Linked DNA regions of Homo sapiens. The protein of the gene in region 2 interacts with the protein of the main gene of each other region in a pairwise test. Each region holds a gene or a part of one and is shown on either strand. Other genes may lie near its edges.

Region 1 (7,864 bases), on a different chromosome or scaffold from region 2:
ATCCATTAGCAAGTCCTGCCTACCACCAACTACATTTTGAATCTGTTCACTCTACTTCTGCCATTCCAATCTAAGCCATCATTACCTCTTGCCTAGACTACAGTATCTTCGTAATTGGTTTCCTTCCACTTTTTTCTGGCTTGGATACACTCCACATAACAGTTGTAGTTTTTAAAATTAGGTAAATCAGACCTCATTCACCTGCTAAAGGCCCTCGGTGCCTAAACTCCTGCTAGCCTTAATAGCCTCATCTTCCTTTCCTCCACTCATGTTCTGTGACCATTCCTCAACTATACTTTACATACACACCTTTCTGTTCCTTGAACCTACCAAGCTTATTGCCATCTTAAGGCATTTGCATTCACTGTTGCCTCTGCCTAGAATAGTTTCTTCCCCAGTTTTTGCATTGTAGGCTTCATTTTAGCAATCATAGGTCTTAAATTTCACCTCAGAGGTCTTTTCCATCTAAACTCACTTTCTGTAACATAACCCTGTGTAATTTTCTAAATAGCAAAGCAGACAAAATGCAGATTGAAATCTTAGTTGGCCAACTTGCTGCTTACTTAGAGGTATGGATTTCAAGGTATGAAATCAGTTATCATTCAACTTTTAATGTCTTCAAGCCCTCACTCTGGAAGGGACAGCCACAAGCAGTATACCATATCCATTACCTGGGATGATAAGTAAAAATGAACTGAGATCAGGTGGAAGTTACCCACTCTTGAATTAGATAATTGGGACACCAGTGGCAGGAGGGGAATTAACAGAACTAATATGCTTCCTACTTTCCAACTTTTTATCAGCCTTAGAAATACATTGTCTTAGGGTTTTTACGTCCACAGAGACTAAGCCTTCAAGTTTGTCTTGGATACCATGCTTTCCTTGTTCAGTGTTTCTGTATTTTCAGCTCACAAATTGAGATTTAGGTTAAAGTACCTGTATGCTAAAATCCTAATTTCTGCATTAAAACTAGTTTTTATTATTTGCACATGTGAATAAGACATTTAAGAGTGGTAACAGAAGAGTGATGAAGTAGAAAATGTGTTACATTGGAACAGTAATAAAATCAGTGGATAAATGTTTTTATTTAATAACATTGTTTAATAAAAAACTACATATTTAACAGAAAAGTTGTTAAAGCTACAAGGTAAAGGCACATTGAAGGAGAATGCTTTTTAAATCCAATTTTCAGGGAATTCACTTTACATGTAAATAAAGCAGAAAATGCAGGAAAATTATTTTGAAGTTTTTCATCACTTAACAATTTCTGGGAAACAAAGTTCATCCTATTTTCCCATAGAGGACCCCTGTTAAAATATAAGATTATATTCCCCTATACTAGGATTCAGCATTCAAATAAATCACTAGTCCAACTTCAATGTCGTAGAACCCAAAAAAAATATAACTATCCTAAAAATATATAATTTAAAATATAATTTATAGTTATACTAAATGGGAATAAACATATGGCACACATTAATTACAAAGGATACTTCATGTACTAGAAAGTGCACCTGTAAGAAAATTAATAAATGACCTAAAACTAAAGCATTTAGGATAACAAACATCATTTTACTTGCTATCTTTTAGAATGCTGCTAGGGAAATCGATGGCACTTAAAAAAAAAGTTGTCCAAATATTTCAACTTTTTTTGGATACGTTTTCCTGAAATAAGTGGAGGCATTCAGTCACCTCAATGCTACAGGTGTTTCTTCAAATAAAACATTTTCAAAAGTAAGAGCTGACCTAATATATGTCTCCTTCATCTTTTCTTACCTTCTCAAACTTGTAGGGGCTTAGCATCAGATGAAAGGTCACTCTGCCTAGCACTTACTGGACTTGCTGTTATCAGAATGCTTTTTCACTCATGAGAAAACTAGAAGGAGCTACCTGGTCACTGGCACAAACTCACAAAGAGCTTGTAAAAACTGCTTTTGTCTGCTAAGTTGGTCAAAAGGAATGAGGATAAACTGGCAGAACGCTATTCAAAGTCTATTTGGAATGCTATCCTTAAAGGTACTTTCTCTATAAAGAAATACAATTTAGCTAGATGAAATAAATCACAACTGTTTTCACTTCCTTAGGTTGGTTTCCTTTAGCTAGTTTGATGTATGGTAAATGGCTAGGTTAGGGTCATGTGTTAGGTTAACTGGAGGTTTGTGGAATAGCTTATTAACGAGTATTTAAAGAAAAAGCTAGTTAAGGGAAGCTGGTTACCAAATATCTAGTAGGACTGTTGGATAAAACCATCTAATCCTTCACTCCAACACATCATGATGGAGATTTTACAATAGCAATCTGGAATCCAACAGCCTTTCTAACCAGGTTAATGTAGCACTTAAGAGTACTTGCTCCAGTTCTTATTTAATCAGTGTTATTTTAGAAGTTACTTTGGATTAATCCTTGATTTGGTGCCTTGGGGAAGACTGGGTGTGGTCTTTGGAACATCCTGTCTATTTAGGCACTGATTATGACTTCCTTGCAGTCTCTGCCTCGCCTGGATTAAGGACTCCAGATACCACTGTTCCTGCTGCAGCTGCTGCTTCCTGTTTTCTAAGTGGCTTTGAGTAGCCGTTAGTTTCTGGGCTTGCTCAATTAGCTGCAGTAATTCCTTCTTGAACTGCTGGTTCTCTCTGTTGATGCCACAGGAGTATTCAAAAATAAACCGCTTTGCTGCCAACTTCAAGGCCTGGGCCTTCATATTAAGCTCTCTTCTTTTTCTCTTTCCCAGTAGCCTCCTGTCTGGCTCGCTCAGTTGTTTCTCCAGTAATCTTTTCTCCTGGAGGAGCTGGGCCTGTACTTCCCGTGTCTTTGAAGCTGTCTCAGCTTGGACTTTCTTTGTCTCCTCCTGTAATGTCTGTATTTCTTTCTCCTGCTTTTCCTTTAATATAGCAATGTCCCTCATTGCCTGCAACTTCCGCTTCAAACTGGATTGGATATTTTCCTTTTGCAAGAGCGCTGTTTTAAGCACTGAAATTTGTTCTGCATATCTGGAGGCTGATTCTTGTCTTCTTCGTTCAATCTCTCCACTTTTTTGTAAATAGCTGTTCCATACCTTCTCAGGTTGCTCTGTGTACTCTTCAGTTTTGTTAGTCAGGTATTCCAGAAAGAATCTGTTTTCAGCCTGGACAAGTAACTTTTCTCGGTGTAGCTCCCTGGATTCCTCCAGTAGCTGTTTCCGCTGGGTTTGAGCTTGTTTTATATGCTTGTTCAGATCCGTCATTTCCGCCACTATCTTTTCTTTAAGCCTTGTCTCTACCTTTGTTAGCTTCTCTGGCTTGACAAAATTATTTATTAGACTATGATACGGTGGAAGGAGCCTTCTGGGGCCCTCAGCAAACCTGAAAGAACAAACGAGACATTCCTCTGTCAGTTAATGAAACTTTAGGAAGTAAGTGCACAACTGTCCTTCATTCATACAAGAGAATATTTCTGAGCACCAGAATGTTCCAGACATTATGCAAGGTGTGGGGAATCCAGCTAGTGGTAAAGGATGAGGAATGTAGCTCGTCATTTACAACGTGCATTCACTACAACCCTGGGAGGTATTACCTCAGTTTTAAAAAAGGAGAAAACAGGTTCAGAGAGTTTAAGTGACTTGCCCATGACTCACACCACTAGCAAGTGGCAGAGCCTGGGTATTAAAGCCAGATCTTATGACTTACTGAACACTGTTTGCAGCTACAAAGGGTCACAGAAACAGACTGGGTGGTCAGGAGTAGAAATAATTTTCTAGGCTCTTTCATCATCTTTCCTGAGTTTCTGAGGGACCTTCAGTGACTGGAGGGGAGGAAGCTCCCCTCCAGTACCTACTTGCACCTGGAATCCAAGCATTCATCCTGAAGGTCACGGCAACTGTGTAGTTCACTGAGGGTGACTGCCAAGGAATGAGCGCTAGCATCAGGAACCTGCGTCTGCAACTCGCGGGAACAATGTGCAAGTGTGGAAAGCTCCCGTAGTTTATTCGTTCGGTGCTCAAAGGGTCTCGGTGCTGCCCAGCAACCCTGGAGACTGCACCCTGCTCCAGTCCCGGCTGGTCCAGCCCTGAACTGTTTAACCGCCTCGGCTACCGAATAAGCCCGAGCAGCCGGTCCTCCAGTGGCTCCGCTCCCCGTTCTCTGTGGGCTCAAAATGACAGGCATGCTCCTCGTTTTCTTGCTGTGTGAGCCCTGCCCTCGGGACCCCATCTCTTCTGGCCTTCCTCCGGGAGACAAAAGCCCTCCCAGGCTGCAGAGATCAGCGCCCTTTTCCTAGCTCCCTTCAGCCTTCCTCTCGCTTGCTCAGCGCCCCCACTTCCTCGCCACTGTCACTAGTTGACTCATCAGCCCTGCCCGACGCTAAGAAGATGCCCTGGCAACCGCCGCGCCCCTCACCCGCTCCTTTCTGACGCTGTGGTGGTTTTCGTTCGCAGCCCAGAACATTGCGGAAGTTTCTCTACCCATGCGGTGTCTCTATGGTCGGGTGGGTGGGGCCAGGAGGAAGATGGCGGCGTCCGCAGCTGCCGCTGAGCTCCAGGCTTCTGGGGGTCCGCGGCACCCAGTGTGTCTGTTGGTGTTGGGAATGGCGGGATCCGGGAAAACCACTTTTGTACAGGTGACGTACACAGCATGGGTGTAGTAGGGGAGCGCAAAAGGTTGCCTCCGGCAGGCGGAAGGCCAGGAAGAAAGGGAGGGAAGAGGATTTGGAGGGTACCGGCGCATGGCTTTCGGGGGCTTCCCATCAACTTTAGTTCCTTCCCCGGCAAAGCCTCCTCGGGCCCTAGCCAGGTTAATTAAGGCTCTCTTCTGCGCACCTTCAGGGCATACTCGGTCCAGCTTACCACGTTGTACAGGAATTGTCTTGCTGATAAAATTGCGTTTCTCGGAGGCAAGTTACAAGTAACTTTAAAGATTAATACAGTGCTAGCACACAGGTTTTGGTGAAGATTTGCCAAATATTTCTTGCACGCCTGTCATGTTCCATTCACTGGGGATATAGCGAAAATGAGGTTGACAAGATTCATTCGTGGGGCCAAATATTTAATGGAGGAGATAGAGAAAACCCACATACGAAGAATCAAAACAAGTAAACAAGTGACTACGAGTAGGGGAAGCTTTGTTAGATGGGTGATGAAGAAAGGTAGCATTTGAACTGAGAGTTGTATCTTGGAGGTGGACATGGTGGATATTTCAGGTAGAAGAAAATCTAAGTGCAATATTCTTAAGGCATGGGTGTTAAAGGAATGGAAGTTCTCTCTTGTCCCCTCTTTGTCTCCTTCCAACCCTCTCCCCATATCTCTGCAGAGGCTCACAGGACACCTGCATGCCCAAGGCACTCCACCGTATGTGATCAACCTGGATCCAGCAGTACATGAAGTTCCCTTTCCTGCCAATATTGGTGAGTAAACCAGTAACATAACTTGTGTGCAGTGCTTTAAAGAGAATGGAAAAGGCCAGGCGTGGTGGCTCACGGCTGTAATCTCAGCACTTTGGGAGGCCGAGGCAGGTAGATCACGAGGTCAGGAGTTCAAGACCAGCCTGGCCAAGATGGTGAAACTCCATCTCTACTAAAAATACAAAAAATTAGCCAGGCACGGTGGCAGGCACCTGTAATTCCAGCTACTCGGGAGGCTGAGGCAGGAGAGTTGCTTGAACCCGGGTGGCAGAGGTTGCAGTGAGCCAAGATCGTGCCACTGCACTCCAGCCTGGTCAATAGAGTGAGACTCTGTAAAGCCTCCAGCCTGCCAGTCTTCAGTGCCTTCTTTTTTCATGTTTTCTAAACTATCTACTTTCATTTCCTTTGGATTTGCTTGCATTCCTAAACAGCTTAGGTTTTTTTTTTTTTTTTTTTTTTTTTAGACAGAGTCTCTGTCACCCAGGCCAGAGTGCAGTGGCGTGATTCACAGGTCACTGCAGCCTCAACATCCCAGGCTCAAGTGATCCTCCCACCTCAGCCTCCTGCCGCTATGCTGGGCTAGTTTTGTTTTGTTTGGAGAGACAAGGCCTCTCTATGTTGCCCAGGCTGGTCTTGAACTCCTGGGCTCAAGTAATCCTCCTGCCTTGGCCTCCCAAAGTGCTGGGATTATAGGTGTGAGCCACTGTGCCCAGCCTAACTCCTTTTAAAAAATCATGTCTGCATTGCCATTGTGTTGCCTTTGTCAGTAATAGGCAATTAGTAAGAAGCATTTTTTCCCCCTTGATTTTTGCCTCCCTTTTTCTAGGCATGTTTAAGTTGCATGAAACTTTGCACTTTGTGGAGACAAAACTCTTTGCCACAACTTTAGAGCTCCTAGCCCTAACATTCTTCATGATTTACTTGGCATTTATTCTTTGTAAGGAAGGAAACCAGTGTGAAAGTGGAGGTGGTAGAAGAGAATGCTGACAGGAGAAGGCTAGAAGGCCAGTTTTACTTTCCTGGTGGTAGGGAATGTGTATGTATTACATTCCAGTTAATTCTTTTTTTTCTCCTCAGATATTCGTGATACTGTAAAGTATAAAGAAGTAATGAAACAGTATCCTTTTCCATCTACTTTGGTCTTGACTCATTCCTGGCTTCTTGTCTGTGTATTTTGTGGCTTGAAAGAGTGTTTTTGCCTTTTCCTTGTGAAATATACAAGCAAAAGGATGGAAGCTGATTGTGGGAGAGGTAGGTGATCAGAAATACTATTTCAGCTTGAGATTTTAGTTTTCTTACCATCTCCCCAGATGGCAGGCTGTTGTAATTAAAGAGCAGAGAGTATGATAGGATAACTGACAGCTACCTGGGTCCCACAAGGTAGTATTTTGCCTTGGAGGATCATCTGTTGGTCACCACCTCTTTAGACTGGGAAACTCAGAAATGAGTGAGTTTAGTTGGATTAACTCTTAGTAAATTGCTGTATGAAATGTGTACTCTCTCCGTAGGCAAGTCTAAGTAGGAAGACTAATCATAATCAGCAGATTGCTTGGTTTATTTATGAGGATCAGAGCCGGAGGTGTTATACAGGTGGCCTTAATGACCAATGCCAGTGGGCTGTCACTGCCTGATGCACCTGTATTACATTTTGGTCACTTTGCTTTCTTCATTTTGCCTGACCACTCCTTAAATCAAATGAGTGAGCCAGACCTTGATAATGACTGTTTCCCTGTGTGGTTAAGTTTGTATGGTAGTCAAGGATTAGGTTGCCAGTATCCATTAATGGAACACTAATTTCATAATGCCGTTTGTGTGAATGATAGCCTAGGTATGAACTTTATAATCTAATCTATAAGCGATTTCAGTCCTCAACTTGGTGTCTAGATATGGACTTGGACCCAATGGCGGCATAGTGACCTCACTCAATCTCTTTGCTACCAGATTTGATCAGGTATATCTGTCTTTAGTATATTAATATGGTTGTGTAAAAATCTGTGACTCTTAAATTCCTTAGCTTGATCACATTGGTAAAGAAGAGCAGCAAACCTGAGCATAAATATAGAAAATAAGTAGGCATTTTGTCAGACAGAGAAGTAGACTATGAGAAGGTGATCAGTATGGTCAGACACTTCAAATTTAATATTTGTGACAGCTAATAAAAATCCAAAAGACCTGGGTTATTTTCTTGACCTGTTCTTTGCCTGTGGTATTACCCCGAAGCTGGGATGGGGGTATTTGGGAGTGGGATGGACTAGCAGTCATGGAATGGAAAGATGATGGGGCATTTTACTTGTGATAAATATTTGTCATTCTTTAGGTTTTCTTTGTCACCTACTTCCATAAGAGTGTTTTATAATCACTGGTTTTTATACTCTGATGTTAGGCCATGAGACAGGCTGTTAACATTTTGACAAGAGATAACAACTTGACATTGACAGATCAAAGTCTTCAGCTTCTCAGATCCTTGGATTGTGCCCCAAGATGGTATTGG
Region 2 (5,599 bases):
TCAGGCTGGGTAAGTAAAGACTCAAAAGCCAGAGACAAGAGAAGAGAGAGAGGAGGGGACTAGTGTTTTGCTAGAGAATTTCCCTCCAGGATTCCGGGATAATTGGGCCTCTTCACTGCTTTCAAAATTGGCGAGGGCCTTAATAGTGCTTGGGTGGGTCTGAAGCCACTCCCCTCCCCCCTCAGGATTCTTGAGAAAGGGACAGAGAATTCCTCAAATCGGCCTTCCCTTTCTCTTTCCCACAGATCCTAATGGGACCATACTTCCTATATTCTCAGCCACCAGCGGGTGAGCATTTTGCTAATCCAGGCAGACTGGATGTGCTTCAGCTCTGTGGGCTTTAGGGCCTCACCCTCATGCCTAAGCCTCTTTGTCAGGCTGGAAACCTTTCCAATTACCTGTGGTCCCTGCTAAGTTCTTCCAATTCTACACTGTCTTCTAATTGTTGAGGTTCCCAGTTCAGAGCCAAGAAATGCATATAACCTAATGTCAGTGGTTAGTAGGGATGACCAGGAAGGTCCCTTCTAAGACACTCAGAGAGGGCTTCCTCCCTCCCGAAGTTGTAGAGAATTGTCAAGGGAGGTCTGGAGATGAGAAGAGCAATTTCAGACACTATCAGTGAGATGTAAAGTGGCACATTTTTTGGAAAGCATTTTGGCAACATGAATCCAGAACCTGGAATATGTCAGTTATTTCATTTCCAGGACTACCTCCCAAGTTAAAAATCAGAGACTCAGACAATGATTTGGGTACGAGGATATTAATCACACTATTTACAAAAGTAAAAGTTGGTGATGACTTGTAGGCTAGTAGTAGGCTAACCACGGGAGTATGGATAGGTAAACAATGTTATAGCCAAACCATGGACTATTACCAAAGTGACATTAAAAAGGTTATTTACTTGATTGTTTGAGACAGGGTCTCACTCTGTTGCCCAAGCTAGAGTGCAGTGACACAATCATAGTTCACTGCAGCCTCCACCTCCTGGCTCAAGTGATCCTCCCACTTCAGCCTCCCAGAGTCCTAGAATTACAGGAATTGTATCTATTTTTTATTACATGGAATGGTGTTAACTGAAAAAGGCAGGATACAACACAATTATAAAATATCCCACTTATATAAATGCAATATCCACCCCAGGTATAAAAATAAGGCTGAAAGAATACATAAAATATCTCCAGGTATTTACAGAGATGAGAAAAAAAGAGAATACACAAAATATACATTTGAATATAGAATTTATTTTTCTCTTAAACAGATGACCCCATAGAAAGTTTCCGTTATGGGATTCTGGGTGACTCATTTTCGTTTTTTTTTTTTTTGAGATGTACTTTCCATCTTGTTACCCAGGCTGGAGTGCAATGGCGCGATCTCCGCTCACTGAAACTTCCGCCTCCCAGGTTCAAGCGATTCTCCTGCCTCAGTCTCCTAAGTAGCTGGAATTACAGGCGCATGCCACCATGCCCTGCTCATTTTTTTGTATTTTTAGCAGAGACAGGTTTTCACCATGTTGGTCAGGCTTGTCTTACACTCCTGACCTCAGGTGATCAGCCCGCCTTGGCCTCCCAAAGTGCTGGGATTACAGGCGTGAGCCACCGTGCTCGGCCTTCTCTTTCATTTTCTAAGTTTTTTACTTTCCTATATTTATTAGGAAATTTAAAAATAATCTTAAGGATGACTGCCACATGCCAGCCATAATGGAGGATGGTCTTTCTTCTACCCTAGACATTTCACACTGAACAGGCCTCACTTGGATCTCGGACATCTTCCTTTCTGCACTGTGCAGATCCCCTCAGTATATGCAGAGAACAGAAAATCATTTTGCTGCCAGTGGAAGGTAGACAGAAGCTACGTTTATTGGGGAAGAAAATACCCTTGCTGTCAAACCATGGCCTGAAAATAAAGGCCTTGGATTACTCCCACCCATCTCCACTCCATGGGTGCAGAGAATGCTGAGGGTGCTTGCATACGAGACCATAAAGTTGTAAAGGATGCCTTCCAGCCCCCATTTGGTTTGTTATGGTGAGAGCTGGGGCCTCTGTGAGTGGCAAGCATCAAAACCCACGACCACAGCCGTTGGTACTGCTTTCAAAAGCATAGCACCCACCCTAATGCCCTGATAAAGGATTTGTCCAGTAGCCTGGGCGTCAGGATTCCTGGGCTCTAGGCCCCACAGGTGATTCACAGCTAGCCCCAGGCTGTGCCTCCTGGCCTCAGTTTTCCTGGCTTGCTCTATTGGTACTTCCTACCTACTCTGTGGGGTGTTAATAGGGGTGAGGTGCTTTGAACTTCTCAGATGAAAGAGGCTGGGAAGCAGCACCCAGTTATTATCCCCTTTACAGCCAGGCGTGGGAGCTGAGGTTGCTTTCATACTGTTCCAGCCACAGTAGCCTCCTCATAGCCCCTCATTCATCTGCCTTTGGCTCTGGCTGCCACAACCAGAAAGCAAAGCAGTCAGTCCTATTTCAATGCTGTTTCAGAACAGATGTCCCTAAATTAATTTGCCAACTGCCCAAACCACTGGTGAACTATCTATGATTCAGTAATACTTTACAGGTGCCTAATTTCTTTCTCCTGATTGGCTGCAAAACCTGTGGGACAAGGGCTGTGACTTCTCACCAATAAATATACCAAAGGAGGGATACTCGCAATTTAGTCAGCAAAATGGGTTATGAGAAAGCCAGGCTGACCAAAGTTCAAACTTCTCATCTTTCTGCTTCCTCACTGTAACACGGGCAATGGCTTATTAATTCTCCCCATCCTGTCTATCTCTAATGAGGATTGTGTGTGTGGAAGCACTCTAAAATACCAAGCACTTCATATGTGTTAATAAGTCCAAATGTGGCCGGGTGCAGTGGCTCACGCCTGTAATCCCAGCACTTTGGGAGGCCAAGGCGGGTAAATCATGAGGTCAGTAGTTCAAGACCAGCCTGAACAACATGGTGAAACCCCGTCTTTACTAAAAATACAAAAATTAGCCGGGCATGTGGTAGGCGCCTGTAATCCCAGCTACTCGGGAGGCTGAGGCAGAGAATTGCTTGAACCTGGGAGGCGGAGGTTGCAGTGAGCCGAGATTGTGCCACTGGACTCCAGCCTGGGCGACAGAGAGAGACTTTGTCTCCAAAAAAAGAAAGTCCAAATACATGCAAATAAAACTTGGCATAACAGTCTTGCCCAAGCCATCAGTCCTGCCCCTTCTGCCACCAGGTTACAACTGCAAAAAATTAGGTTGGGGTGCCACCTACTGGTTGAAAAATATATGAACTGCATCCAGCCAGTTGCAAGAGCAAAGAAAAAACTTCCAAGCCCTCTTGATTTTTGCCACACTCTCATAGGAACTGCCATATTATATAATTAATATTTTTCTTTACACAACTTACTATTTTTTTTTGAGACAGAGTCTTGCTCTGTCGCCCAGGTTGGAATGTAGGCACAATCTTGGCTCACTGCAACCTCCGCCTCCTGGGTTCAAGCAATTCTTCTGCCTCAGCCTCCCCAATAGCTGGGATTATAGGCGTGCAACACCATGCCCAGCTAATTTTTATGTTTTTAGTAGAGAGGGGTTTCACCATGTTGGCCAGGCTGGTCTCGAACTCCTGACCTCAGGTGATCCGCCCGCCTCAGCCTCCCAAAGTGCTGGGCTTACAGGCATGAGTGAACACGCCCAGCCTTGTATTTCATTTTTGAAGTACACCTTTTTTTTGAGACAAAGTCTCGCTCTGTCACCAGGCTGGAGTGCAGTGGTGCAATCTCAGCTCACTGTAACCTCTGACTCCTGGGTTCAAATGATTCTCCTGCCTCAGCCTCCCAAGTAGCTGGAACTACAGGTACGCGCCACCTATGCCCAGCTAATTAAAAAAATTTTTTGGTAGAGATGGGGTTTCACCATGTTGGCCAGGATGGTCTCGATCTCTTGACCTTGGGATCCGCCTGCCTCGGCCTCCCAAAGTGCTGGGATTACAGGCGTGAGCCACCGCACCCAGCCTTGAAGTAAACTTTTAACCACTACTGTAAATGGAAAACTAGTTAACACTTGTCAACAATAGAATAAAACCATAAAACAAATACAGTGAATATAAAACATTAACAAAGTTCTAGTTAGGAAGTGTTGCCTGTGAAAGCTGAAGCTTGAGGCTCTGTTAAAACTGAAAATTGTGGGACATGGTGGCTCACACCTGTAGTCCCAGTTACTCAGGCGTCTGAGGCGGGAAGATCACATGAGCCCAGGAGTTTGAGTCCAGCCTGGGCCATATAGCAAGACCCCATCTTTTAAAAAACAAACCTCAGAACCAAAAACTGAAGATTAATAAAAACACATGACTGGAGACTGAATGTAAATCCTATGTGACTGAATGTGAATTATATGCTTTGGGGAAATACTGATTATTCCAAGGCTAGGTGACACTCCCTCATTCTTCCCCAAACCCCTGGGCCCGGAAGACTGAAGAAAAGTTTGGAAGTCACAAAAAGTAGAAAATAAACTCTTGTATTGTAGCACATTTCATCACAGCCTGACTAGGACCAGTGCTCGACTTTCTGGTGGCAGGGCCCAGAGCTCACGGACACCACTGACAGTATGGGGGGTGTTCTGCTTGGCACCATGTCTGGCTTTTTGGCCAGAAGTCCTTTGCAGAGCTGAATATCCCCTTGCCAGCCCGCCAGCTCTGGCTGGGAGGACTTGCTCTTGGGTCTGCAGCCTGCATCAGGAGCCTCCACTTTCCCCAGTGCTGGATTATGCATCCTGCTCTCCAGGGTCCACCTTGTTGCTACAGCTGCATGGCTTCCTGCTCCACTGACTGGTTCGAGGGTGCCAGGTACTTCTCCTGGATGCCCAGTGTGCTGAGGAAGGGTGCGTCAAGGCTGATAGCATAGGCAGAGGATGGGGAGCTGGTCTGGGCAGGATCTGACTTCCGCTGATGCCTACACTCCAACCATGTCCATCCCTCTCTTCCTCATAATTATAGGGACCAATCAGGTATGAGAAGCCTCCAAAAACACCCAGACTCAAATGCTCCTCTATCTGCCTCTTCCACACACTGCTGCGGATCAAAGGACTGGACAGTACTAACCTTGCAATTTTGCGTTATGGCACATGCTCTGGAGCCAGACTAAGGGAGTTCAAAACCTGATGATGTCTGGGTCTGGGGTCTGACGAGGACATGGAGGTTAGCCATGGCTAGGTTGGCTATGTTAGGACACCATGGCTGTTGTACTACCAGATGGCTCCAAAGTAAGAAACAGATTCTACACCCACCAAAACCAAGGTTTGAACTGTTCTTCCAAAACATCCCGGGAGAGGGACCTTGGGCCTGTCGCCTCAATTATAAAAGGGGTTGAAATGAGGATTAAATGACCCTGCAAGTAAAGCACTTAGCCCACCAAATGATGTTCGAGTTACAGACCTTTCTTTTTCTTTTTTTTGAGACAGAGTCTCACTCTGTCACCAAGCTGGAGTGCAGTGGCGCGATCTCGGCTCACCGCAACCTCCAACTCCCTGGTTCAAGCAATTCTCCTGCCTCAGCCTCCAGAGTAGCTGGGACTACAGGTACATGCCAGCACACCCAGCTAATTTTTCTATTTTTAGTAGAGACAGGGTTTC

Evidence for each region. Proteins that work in one complex are often made in the same cells at the same time.
Region 1: the proteins of GPN2 (region 2) and GPN1 interact in binary tests that used the Homo sapiens proteins (3 or more experiments, as listed by UniProt).

Annotation. Positions count from the first base shown.
Region 1 is NC_000002.12:27,624,577-27,632,440, forward strand, and holds the start of GPN1 (GPN-loop GTPase 1), read left to right. Parts: upstream 1-4,473; 5' UTR 4,474-4,482; coding exon 4,483-4,593; intron 4,594-4,798; coding exon of another isoform or gene 4,799-4,866; intron 4,867-5,282; coding exon 5,283-5,376; intron 5,377-6,450; coding exon 6,451-6,490; intron 6,491-7,257; coding exon 7,258-7,324; intron 7,325-7,864. Other genes in the region: CCDC121 (coiled-coil domain-containing protein 121), read right to left, coding at 2,387-3,341, 3,820-4,187. UniProt on the Homo sapiens protein: Small GTPase required for proper nuclear import of RNA polymerase II (RNAPII). May act at an RNAP assembly step prior to nuclear import.
Region 2 is NC_000001.11:26,874,911-26,880,509, forward strand, and holds the end of GPN2 (GPN-loop GTPase 2), read right to left. Parts: intron 4,840-5,599; coding exon 4,767-4,839; 3' UTR 1,222-4,766; downstream 1-1,221. UniProt on the Homo sapiens protein: Small GTPase required for proper localization of RNA polymerase II and III (RNAPII and RNAPIII). May act at an RNAP assembly step prior to nuclear import.